3 linked regions of the Homo sapiens genome follow. The protein of the gene in region 3 interacts with the protein of the main gene of each other region in a pairwise test. Each region holds a gene or a part of one and is shown on either strand. Other genes may lie near its edges. The genes, in order: KRTAP10-6, TMEM132D and ZNF302.

Evidence for each region.
Region 1: the proteins of ZNF302 (region 3) and KRTAP10-6 interact in binary tests that used the Homo sapiens proteins (3 or more experiments, as listed by UniProt).
Region 2: the proteins of ZNF302 (region 3) and TMEM132D interact in a two-hybrid assay, tested with the Homo sapiens proteins (one large-scale study listed by BioGRID).

The regions. Positions count from the first base shown.
Region 1 is NC_000021.9:44,590,750-44,594,122, forward strand, and holds KRTAP10-6 (keratin-associated protein 10-6), read right to left. Parts: upstream 1,757-3,373; 5' UTR 1,736-1,756; coding exon 638-1,735; 3' UTR 519-637; downstream 1-518. UniProt on the Homo sapiens protein: In the hair cortex, hair keratin intermediate filaments are embedded in an interfilamentous matrix, consisting of hair keratin-associated proteins (KRTAP), which are essential for the formation of a rigid and resistant hair shaft through their extensive disulfide bond cross-linking with abundant cysteine residues of hair keratins.
Region 2 is NC_000012.12:129,901,195-129,905,573, reverse strand, and holds the start of TMEM132D (transmembrane protein 132D precursor), read left to right. Parts: upstream 1-1,548; 5' UTR 1,549-2,234; coding exon 2,235-2,313; intron 2,314-4,379. UniProt on the Homo sapiens protein: Regulate neuronals morphology via inhibition of the WAVE regulatory complex (WCR), a complex that controls F-actin cytoskeletal dynamics.
Region 3 is NC_000019.10:34,683,741-34,686,997, forward strand, and holds the end of ZNF302 (zinc finger protein 302), read left to right. Parts: intron 1-251; coding exon of another isoform or gene 252-433; exon of another isoform or gene 434-511; coding exon 512-1,497; 3' UTR 1,498-2,656; downstream 2,657-3,257. UniProt on the Homo sapiens protein: May be involved in transcriptional regulation.

The sequences.
Region 1 (3,373 bases), on a different chromosome or scaffold from region 3:
GTGAATGTGGCTCAGGGGCCCAGAGTGCTGCCAGGGTCCACTTTGTCCCGAAACTCCTGGCCTTGGTTCCAGAGGCAGCTTTCCTAAGATGGGCCGGGGGGCCATGTGCTGGGGTTGGGGGCCCACGGGGCTAAGAGGGAGACTGGCCTTCAGGGTTCACAGAGGCCAGCACCAGAAGGCATTGCTTCCTGCCTCATCCCATGCCCCTCGGGGGTCCACAGACAGGATGAAAAGTCGACAGAGACAGAGGGGTGGAGCCAGGCCTGCTGGGGGTCAGGACTCTCCCTGCAGTCAGGGGTGGCATCACTTCCCACCTCACCCTGTGCCCCCCGGGGGTCCACAGACAGGACAGAGGTTGGTGTGAGACAGAGGCGGCTTTATTAGAACTAGAGGGGGTGCTGCCCAGGGTGGAACCAGGCCTGCTGGGGGTTAGTTCTGCAGAACTTGGGTCTGGGGGAGTAGCTGGGGTCTCTCATGCAGCCAGCATCTGGGAAGGACAGGGGGAGCATCCTGGTCCCTAAGACAAAGAGCCTGCCCCATCTTCTGAGGGTGTCAAAGCCAGAGAGGGCAGAGCTTGCTGGGGCAGCTGGGAGGTCAGCCCCTGGTGGGAAGGGACTCCGGATCACATCCAGGGCTGTCAGCAGCTGGACTTCTGGCCAGAGCAGAGGCTGTAGCAGGCAGGGCGGGAGCACATGGGGCGGCAGAGGAGGGAAACACAGGAGGCCGTGCGGCAGCAGCTGGGCTGGCAGGAGGAGGCAGAGGCACCACAGGAGGGGACGGGCACGCAGCAGGTGGACTTGCACACAGGGTGGCAGAGGAGGGACACGGAGGAGGAGGATCTGCAGCAGGAGGCGGTGCAGCAAGCCGGCTGGCAGCTAGACTGCTGGCAGCATGATGTGGAAGCCCCAGAGCAGACGGGCACACAGCAGGCGTGCTGGCAGGGGGAGGAGGTGCAGCAAGCTGGCTGGCAGCTAGACTGCTGGCAGCATGAAGAGGAATCCTCAGAGCAGGTGGGCACACAGCACACAGGCACGCAGCAGACGGGCACGCAGCAGGCCTGCTGGCAGGGGGAGGAGGTGCAGCAAGTTGGCTGGCAGCTAGACTGCTGGCAGCATGAGGGTGTGCAGGAGCTGGTGCAGCCTGATTGGCAGGGGCTGGGCTCACAGACCGCCTGGCAGCAGGGGCTGGACACACAGCTCACACAGCTAGACTGCTGGCAGCACGAAGAGGAAATCCCAGAGCAGACAGGCTTGCAGCAGACGGGCACACAGCAGGCCTGCTGGCAGGGGGAGGAGGTGCAGCAAGCTGACTGGCAGCTAGACTGCTGGCAGCATGAAGAATCCCCACAGCAGACGGACACACAGCACACAGGCTTGCAGCAGACAGTCTTGCAGCAGACGGGCACGCAGCAGGCCTGCTGGCAGGGGGAGGAGGCACAGCAAGCCAGCTGGCAGCTAGACTGCTGGCAGCACGAGGGCGTGCAGGAGCTGGTGCAGCCTGATTGGCAGGGGCTGGGCTCACAGGTCACTGGGCAGCAGGGGCTGGACACACGGCTCACTGGGGTGCAGACCAGGCTCAGGCAGGGGGCCGGGGCGCAGCAGGGGGGCTCACAGCAGCTCTCTGGGCAGTCGTCCACCTGCCAGGAGTCGGAGCAAGAGTCACAGGAACCAGGAAGGCAGACGCGGCTGCCGTAGCTCAGGTCGCTGGAGCAGACGGACATGGTGGACGCGGCCATGCTGGGGTTGAACTGGTGGAGGGTGAGGGAGTGAGCCTGTGAGGTGCTGAGGCTCTCGGGCTTTTATTCCACCTGGCCTTGTTGTCCCCGGGCCCACAGCTTCCCCTTCCGTGTTGCCGAGAGCTGGAGTCTGCCGGGATTAGGGGTGTTTGTTCGCCCGTGATGTGGGCCAGCTCATAAATCTCCCATCACATCTGGGCTGTGTCCCATCCCATGTGGATCCCTGGCGGCAGGAATTGGGCGGGGCCTGGTCCCAGCTGGGTTCGGGGAGCTGGGAGAGCCACAGGTCGCGGCATCGTCCACCCCTGGCCCCAGCAGCCCCGGGACACAGAGTCCCTCTGCAGGAAGCCGGCCTCAGGAAGTGTCCTTGTGGTGAAAACCCCTCATCCAGCGTGGTCCTTCCCCCATCACCGGACACAGGACTGTGGCCATCTTCTGAGGGACAACCTGGGGCCCATGAGCCTTCATTGACCTGCCCTGGGCCATGGCATGGTGGGGGTGGGGGGCAGCTGTAACTGTGCCCAGACCTCTTGGCTTTGAGCTCTGGACGACTTCTCATCCCCACAGCCTCTTCACCTCCGGCCCTGTTTCGTGTCCACCTCGTCTTTGTGTTTTGGAGGCAGCAGGACCTGTGTGTTCCAGGGCAAGGACGGTGGGCTTGGCCCCTCCCTGCTTGGACAGCATGACAGCCTTCTGGGCTGTGGTTTTGGGTTCTGAACCTGCAGAGTAACCGTGCTGAGCAGCGGGCGGTCAGCAGCCCTCGTCCCCGCCTGGGGTGGCTCCTCTGTGTGCTCTGCTTCTCCGAGGCTGCCCGTCAGCCCCCACCCAGCCTCCTGCTGGGCCCATTTCCCAGCCCTGTCTTCCAAGCCCTGTGCCAGGCCTCTTAGTGTCACCACCTTAAAATTAAGGGACATCTGTCCAAAGAACCCGCACAGAAGACACAAAATGGGTCCATGAGAAGTTGATCTCACTGCAAACCCATTGCCAGTGTAAACGAAACATAAAATCCTAAGCCCCTCAACTGACTAAATGGATCCCATCTTGCCCACGGGGACCCCCGAAAAACTGCGTTCCTGGCCATGACAGGAAGGGAGGTCAGACACGCCTCGTTACACCCCCTCCCTTTAGGGTTTCGACACAACCACTACCCAGCACTAAAGTTAAAATAGAGACCGTAAGACCCACAGAGCAGACTCTGGCAATAAGATATCAAATTACAAACAGGACCTCAGGCCGCGCCAGGCAAGGGACAAGCCGCGTGCCCTACACTGAGAGGACGGACTCTGCTCTCACGCCACAGCTGCTGTTTTTCTACAGTGGCTAAACACGCACTGGCCCCGCGATGAGGATGAGCAAGGTTCAAACGACTGCAGCTCATCCACCAGCAGATGCCAACTGACCACGTTCCACAGCCATGACCACAGCTCTGACTGGGCAGGAGACTGACTTCAGGAACCTCCTCCTGATAAGGGACCCCCAACCATGGACTGGCTCCAGCCGGTTTACAGAGGCTGTGCACTGGAGTGCCTTTGTGTCCTGAGAAGACTTCTGAGGTTTAGGGCCTCATTGCGACCCATTGACATGATAAGACTCCACCCTGTAAGAAGTACATTTCAAGTGGTCCGTATTCAGAAAACA
Region 2 (4,379 bases), on a different chromosome or scaffold from region 3:
AGACCAGGTGAAGGTGTCCAAGAGACGAAAGCTCAGCTCTCTCATCACTCAGGTGAAGGAGAAAGGGGACCAGTGGTTCCAGCACGTGTTCCGCAGGCCGGCAGCATCAGCATCACCTGGAACTTTTTAGGAACGGAGATCGGAAGTCCCACCTTGACCTGCCGAGATAGCTCTGGGGTGGGCCCAGCAACCCAGGTCTAACAAATTTTCCAGTGACTCTCCTGCTGGTTCAAACTTCAGAAACAGTGAAAGAGACAATCTCTTAGGGTCTTTGCAGCGTCGACTCTTAGGAATTTTACAGGAGAGCAATACAAAGAGAAAAGGCAACAAGTTTAAGAAACAAACAAAAGAAAAAACAGAAAGACAGATATATTCAGATAAGTAGATACAGAATAAAAGACAAGAGCACATCTCAAAGGACATGAACCCAGAAAAACAATCTTCGGTAGAACAGCAGTGGCTTTTTTGATCTTCCTTGAAACTTTGAAAGCTAAAAACTCTTAAAGCATTGGTATATTTCTGCAACTACAGGCATACAGGATAAAAAAGTCCATTGCCCCCTCAGTCAGATGATAACGACCCATTTTTATCTACTGAGGTGAATTCACCTCATTAGATTCAGGGCTTGTTGGTTTACAATATTCCTTAAAAATTCTGAATGCTTTTCTTCCCTCTGAGCTTTGATGGGGTTAATTTAAAGGCTCTCGTGGAGCAAAGCAGTTCTTGGGCTACAAATTACAGGACGGTGCTTAGGGATCTTGGTGTGGGAATGTCTTAGTTGGAGATTCCGGGCGGTGTTGAGAATCATGTCTTTTATCTTCTCAAAGCAATGTTGTCTCCTAATGGATCCATTTCCTTTCCCAGTGAGCCCTGGGGAGCACACGACATGTTTCTAGGGACACTAACTTGGGGGATCGCTCTGGGAAGGGGCTTGGGGCCAGCATGACCTCAGTGTGGCGTGTCAGAGACTTCCTCACTGCGATCCCTGGGAGATGCGCAGGGCGGGGCGAGGGCCCTTCTCCAGCCATCCTTGCGCTCTCCCTGGCGAAGAGCCTCAGGTGCCCCCGGGCTGGAGGACCTCCCCTGGGCCTGAGGTTTTGATGACGACGAGAGGCCGGTGGCCAGCTGGACACCTGTTGGGAGAGTGGGTGGCTCCGTCCCCGGGGTGCGCCCGCGCTGGGAGCCCTCGCCCGCCGCCACCGCGCGTCCGCGCTCGCAGGGAGGGTGGCCGGGAGGCTGGGCGTGGGGCGGCCAGGGGGAGGTGGGATTTACTTTGCGGATTGGGGCTCACAGCTGTCACTCCGAAAGGGTGGGGCTTTTTAAAAGCAGACAAATTTTTAAGGCGAAAGCCCCAGCCGGCTCCGGGCACCGTGGCGATCGCCTCCGTTCCGTTCCGGATGCGGTCCTTGCGGAGCGGAGCCCCCGCGCCTGCTGGCAGGAGGCAGCTGCGTTGCTCGGCCGCGTCCCCGAGCCGGCGGGCCCTCCTCCGCGCACATCTGGCCCGCCTCCCCCGGGCGCAGGGGGGAGCCCCGCGTCTCCGGAGCCTGCAGTGCGCTCGGCGCGCGTAGAGCCCCGCGAGCCCCAGCCGGGCCCGGGGCCGGGCGGGCCGAGGCGGCGGCCGGGGAGCAGCCGCACCCGCCAAACTTTGGGTGCCGGAGCGCGCGCGCGCCCGAGCCCCGAGGCGCAGCGGCCGGCCTGGGATGGGGGCTGCGGGCCAGGGAGCCCCGGGCCGCCCAGCGAGCCCGGCCACCCGCCCGGGGGGCTCCGAGCCGCCTCTGCCCGCGTCCCGGGCTCCGCAGCCCCGCCACCCCGGCGCCGCCTGCGCCAGCGCCCGCTAGCCAGCCCGGGAGCAGCTGGAGCCGCCGGAGCCCTGCGCCTGGAGGCGCCCCTCCTTGGGCCACCGGGGGCCACTCTTCGCTCGGGTAAACAGGAAAGGAAATACCCCCTGTGGATTAAAATTTAAAAAAAATTCTGTTGGGGTCGAAGGAGGGAGGTGGGGTTTGCCTGCGCGCGTGTTGGACTCCGGAGAGCAACTCAGGAGCCCGCGCGGTCGTCGCCTCCCGGCCTGGCCATGGACTGGCGGGAAGAGGGAGCAGGGCGCCCGGGCTGCTCGGGCCCCTAGCCGGGCGCTCCCTCGCCACCGGCCCCGCTGCGGGCCTCTAGGGGACTGAGACGGTCTCTTGTTCGCCTGGACGGCGCCGGGGAGCGGAGGATCTGCGCTCCGGGTCTCCAGGATGTGCCCGTCTGAGATGGGGACGCTGTGGCACCACTGGTCGCCGGTACTCATCAGCCTGGCCGCCCTGTTTTCCAAAGGTGAGGACGCCGCGGCCGCCAGGGCCCGGGGACTAACTTCGCCTGGAGTGAGTGTGTGGGAGTGTGTGGAGGATGGGGGCGGCCGGGAGAGAGGGCTCGTGTGCAAGTGTGTGTGCGCGCTTGTGTGCATGTGTGTGTGCGCGCGTGTGAACGTGCGCTCGTGCGGCAGCCAAGCTCCTCGGACGCCCCTTGGCCGAAGGTGCTTGTCCTGGAGCACTTGGGTGGGAGGCCTTAGGTGAGACTACTAAGGAGCCGAAAGGAAAGGAAGGCTGTTTCCTGAAAGCCTTTTCTGTAAAGGGAGAGGGCGTGGGGACCCTTGAGAGGAAAGGTGGCCTCTGGAGGGCCGAGCCGGCTGTCGGGGGAGGAGGGGATTGAGATGACCAGGGAGATTTCTGGAATTTGGGATTGACTTTCCCTGGTGGCACTGACCTATTTGGAAATAATTTTGGAGCACTCCTGTTGTATGGGAATACTATTTTGTGTATTATAGGCTGCCAAAAATATAGCCTGGGGGGCGGCTCTGAAGAAGGGGGATGGGTTTCTCCAGGTCTGCCGCTGTGAGGTTTGGGCACAGGGTCTGGCGCTCACCCTTCCGTAGGGTGCTGGGAGCAGCAGCGGCCCCGCAGGGTGCACGTGGAGTTTCAGCTACAAGTTGTGACCCGAATTTTCCCAGCGGAGCCCTGACTTGAAGCCATGTGTCAAGGCAGGAATTCCTCAATGTTTCCTCTTCTCTTCTGCCAGCATCCCTGTCTGTCATGGGAAGAGCAAGTTTGGAAGCTCTGGACAGTCATTCTTCCTTGAAGAGAAATGGTGTGATTTGTGCGGGAGATTCTTTCTCATGATTGACCTGGGCTGCTTGTGTGTGGTTCCCCCACCCGTGCCCCTTTCCTGCAGATAGATACACTGGGAGGAGAGTGAAGCGTCTCAGCAGTCTCTAATACGTGCTGCAAGAACCCTGTACCCATATTTTTCTGCAAAGATTTTTGAGATGAGATCTCTCTCAGAAACTTCAAAGCCAATTATCACGCACAAAGTCTTTTAATTACATGAATTGTCTGTTCTCTGAGTTCTTCCAGAATCACTGAGGTTATGTTGCTTTGGATCTGATAATAGATGAAGACAGTTGAAATGCCGAGTTCTGTGATGGTTCGATTTAGAAAGAGGAATTTACGTTCCCCCTCCTTCCCTGTCTTTGAAGTGTGGTTGAAATGGGCTCACGTTTCCTAATTATGAGTTAGAACAATCCCTGGGATCAGAGCCTTCTGGATTTATAATGTGCACAGGAAACCAAAGAAAAGGTTGATGAATTCAGTGAACCTGACTCAGGCAGACGTGAGGTTAAAAAAACCAAAATCCACAGCAACAACAGCCCAGCATTTTTTTTTTGGGGCGGGGGGGGTTGGTTCTCACTTGGTTTTATAATAGGTCCAGACTTCTTTGTGTTTATGCTGCAATAACAAGGTTGTATTAAGAAAGGTACAGAATAGCTTTGGAAATAGGACCTCACTATTGTGTTTTTTCACTTAGGTACATAGGTCTGTTACTGATTTCTTTATTAGACTGAGCAGTGTTGAAGAGAATTGTATTTAGCCTAATACTTGTGAACTTTTTCAACTGGGAACACTGAACATGTCCTTAAATGAGGTCCTGTGTGATGTGGAAGCCTCTTTACTAGGTGGCCAAAAATTAGCACGTAAAATGTTTACGATAAGCCTAGCATATGACATATTTTGTGTATTGAACTTAAGCAAGTCAGCCAGACAGTTCAAAAGTGAATCAGTTCTGTGTGGAGACTTTGTACAGCAATTAGCAGAGTCTGAGCACATGGTAGATGATTCAGGATTAGTCACAATATGTCAAAGAACAAGAAAAAAATCAACACCCCTATTAGCAAATTGCATAAAATGGAATTTCATGATGCAGATGTGATTTATACATTCAGGGACAGGGCCATTCTTTTCCCAATGTGTTCATATCACCTCCCTCTAAGATTCTCTGATCACTTGAAAGTTCTCACCCATCTTGCAATCAAGTATGGACTATATTGAAAAGGATTTTAATTGAAA
Region 3 (3,257 bases):
AGCTATAAAGAGCATTTACTTTGTTTTTACTGCAGTTGTTTAATATAGTAGTATCAATTCTGTATTTTAAGCTTGATAATCCAGCAGCAAATTGAGATTAATGGAAGGTTGGAAAAAAAGGCTATGAAACAAAATGCAACCTTTCCCACATGAATATAGGCACAAAATGATGATTTGTAATCCTGAATGCCTTCCACATCTTATTTCTGATACTTTCCTTTTTTCCATACTATTTTATCCATTTCGTACAGCTTACCCATTTCCTTTATCACACTCTGTTCCTGCTTCTGTGAACTTTGGATTCTCTGCTCTATTTGAGCATTGTTCAGAAGTCACTGAAATATTTGAGTTGTCAGAACTATGTGTTTTCTGGGTGCTTCATTTCTTATCCAATTCTCCTAATTCCACTGTAGAAGCTTTTTTCAAGAAGTAAAAAAAAAAAAAAAAAAAAAAAAAAAAAAAAAAAAAAAAAAAAAAAAAGGCAGTGCTTTGCTTTCTTGATATATTTCAGATTGGGAATCAAGATGGGAAAACAAGGAATTATCAACAAAGAAGGATATTTATGATGAAGATTCACCCCAACCAGTAACAATGGAAAAAGTTGTAAAACAAAGTTATGAATTTTCAAATTCTAATAAGAATTTGGAATATACAGAATGCGACACATTTAGAAGCACCTTTCATTCAAAGTCTACTCTTTCTGAACCACAAAACAATTCTGCTGAAGGGAATTCACACAAATATGATATATTAAAGAAGAATTTATCAAAAAAGTCAGTTATAAAAAGTGAGAGAATAAATGGTGGAAAGAAACTTTTAAATTCTAATAAAAGTGGGGCAGCCTTCAACCAGAGCAAATCTCTTACCCTTCCCCAGACTTGTAATAGAGAGAAAATCTATACATGCAGTGAATGTGGGAAAGCCTTTGGCAAACAGTCAATCCTCAGTCGCCACTGGAGAATTCATACAGGAGAGAAGCCCTATGAATGTCGTGAATGTGGGAAGACTTTTAGCCATGGTTCATCCCTTACACGACATCAGATAAGCCATAGTGGAGAGAAACCTTACAAATGCATTGAATGTGGGAAGGCCTTTAGCCATGGCTCATCACTTACTAACCATCAGAGCACTCACACGGGAGAGAAACCGTATGAATGTATGAACTGTGGAAAGTCTTTTAGTCGTGTGTCCCTTCTCATTCAGCATCTAAGAATTCATACGCAAGAAAAACGCTATGAGTGTCGTATATGTGGAAAGGCCTTCATTCATAGTTCGTCTCTCATTCACCATCAGAAAAGCCATACTGGAGAGAAGCCTTATGAATGTAGAGAATGTGGGAAAGCTTTCTGCTGTAGCTCACACCTTACTCAACATCAAAGAATTCACAGTATGAAGAAAAAATATGAATGCAACAAATGTCTCAAGGTCTTTAGTAGCTTCTCATTTCTTGTTCAACATCAGAGTATTCATACTGAAGAAAAACCGTTTGAAGTTTAGAAATGCAGGAAATCCTTCAACCAGCTTGAATCACTGAATATGCATTTGAGAAATCACATTAGATTGAAACCCTACGAATGCAGTATATGTGGGAAAGCCTTTAGTCATAGGTCGTCCCTGCTTCAACATCACAGTATTCATACTGGAGAGAAACCTTACGAATGTATTAAATGTGGGAAGACCTTCAGCTGTAGTTCAAACCTTACTGTACATCAGAGAATTCATACTGGAGAAAAGCCATATAAATGTAGTGAGTGTGGGAAAGCTTTTAGCAAAGGCTCGAATCTTACTGCCCATCAAAGAGTACATAATGGAGAGAAACCCAATAGTGTGGTAAGTGTGGAAAAGCCTTTAGATCATATGAATCCCTATACATGTGAGAAATCTTACAGAAGAGAAGCAGTGTTTATCACGGTAAACTTCATTCATAGATCCTCCCTTATTTAACATCAGAAAAATGTATACTGGGGAAAAGTTGTATGAAGGTGGTGAACATGGGAGACTTTTAGCAATGATGCAGATTTTTTTATTAGAGTTTATACTGTAGAGAAATCATATGAAGTCAATAAATGTGGGAAAGCCTTTGTCAGTATTAATCCCTTAATTGACCTAAGTATACTCACACTAGGAAAAATCTGTGTACATGTAGCAAATGTGGGAAAGACTATAGGCAATAGGAATCTCCTGCAAACTCCTACAGGAGAAAAGTTGTATGAATGTGGAAACTTTAGAAATTGAAGGAATTTTTCAGTTCCAAGTGCATCCCTTATTCTATAGGAAATAAACTGGAGACAAATCTCATTTAAGAGATGCAGCAAAGTGTTCACTAAGAGTGTTTATCTTGCCAGACATAAGAAGATGAATGGTAGAGCAACCTGAAGGATTTAGAAATTACATATAAATCTTTGCAGTTATGCTATTTGTAAACAGGATTATATAGGAGAGCAAATAAACATAAGTATGCATTTCTTAGAGCAGTAGCTTGCAGTTTCAGTTGAGTTCTACTTAGAAATTCTTTTTAGCTAGTGGGCATGTGAAGATATTTAGTCACCCAGAGGAGCCAGTAAATGTTATAATGTTAAAAATTAAAGCTGCAAAAGAAATAAAATGGTGTTAATAAAAATTTGGCATCTAATAAAATCATTTTGTATATCATGAACTCTTTCTCTGTGACTGTTTGCGACAAAAAAAAATTTCACTAAGATTAGCCTTAGTATAGCCTTTAGCGGGAGACTAGCAAACTTCGAGAAGAATGGCCTGCTCTTTATACTAAGAATAGCAGTATTTTGGTGAGGATTATTGAGTCCATATCCAGTAGGCTTAATTAAATACATTTCAAGAACATTTACTGAGCATTACTCATGTGTATTACACAGGGATGGGATAAAGGAATCTAGTAGTTCTGAGCTCTAGTGCTGTGTCGAAATCACTGGAAGGACGTGTTAAAGCACAGATTGCTAAGCCTCAGTCCTAGAGTTTCTGTATGAGTTGATTTGAATTTGCATTTTTCACACGTTCTTAGGGGACACTAACACTGTTTGTCCAGAATATAATAATAATGTTATGGTGTCACTGACAACATATTGTTTCCTCAATCTTACCTATTAACCATTTCTTGAGCATCTTCTGTGGACTTAAGAAACACTCCATACTCCTTAAGAGCTTCGAGATGTGTGTGTGTGAAGAGCATTAAGCTTTGGAGTCTTGTTACCTGGGTTTAAATCCAAGTTACATGTATACTGGCTTTGTGACCTTGGACA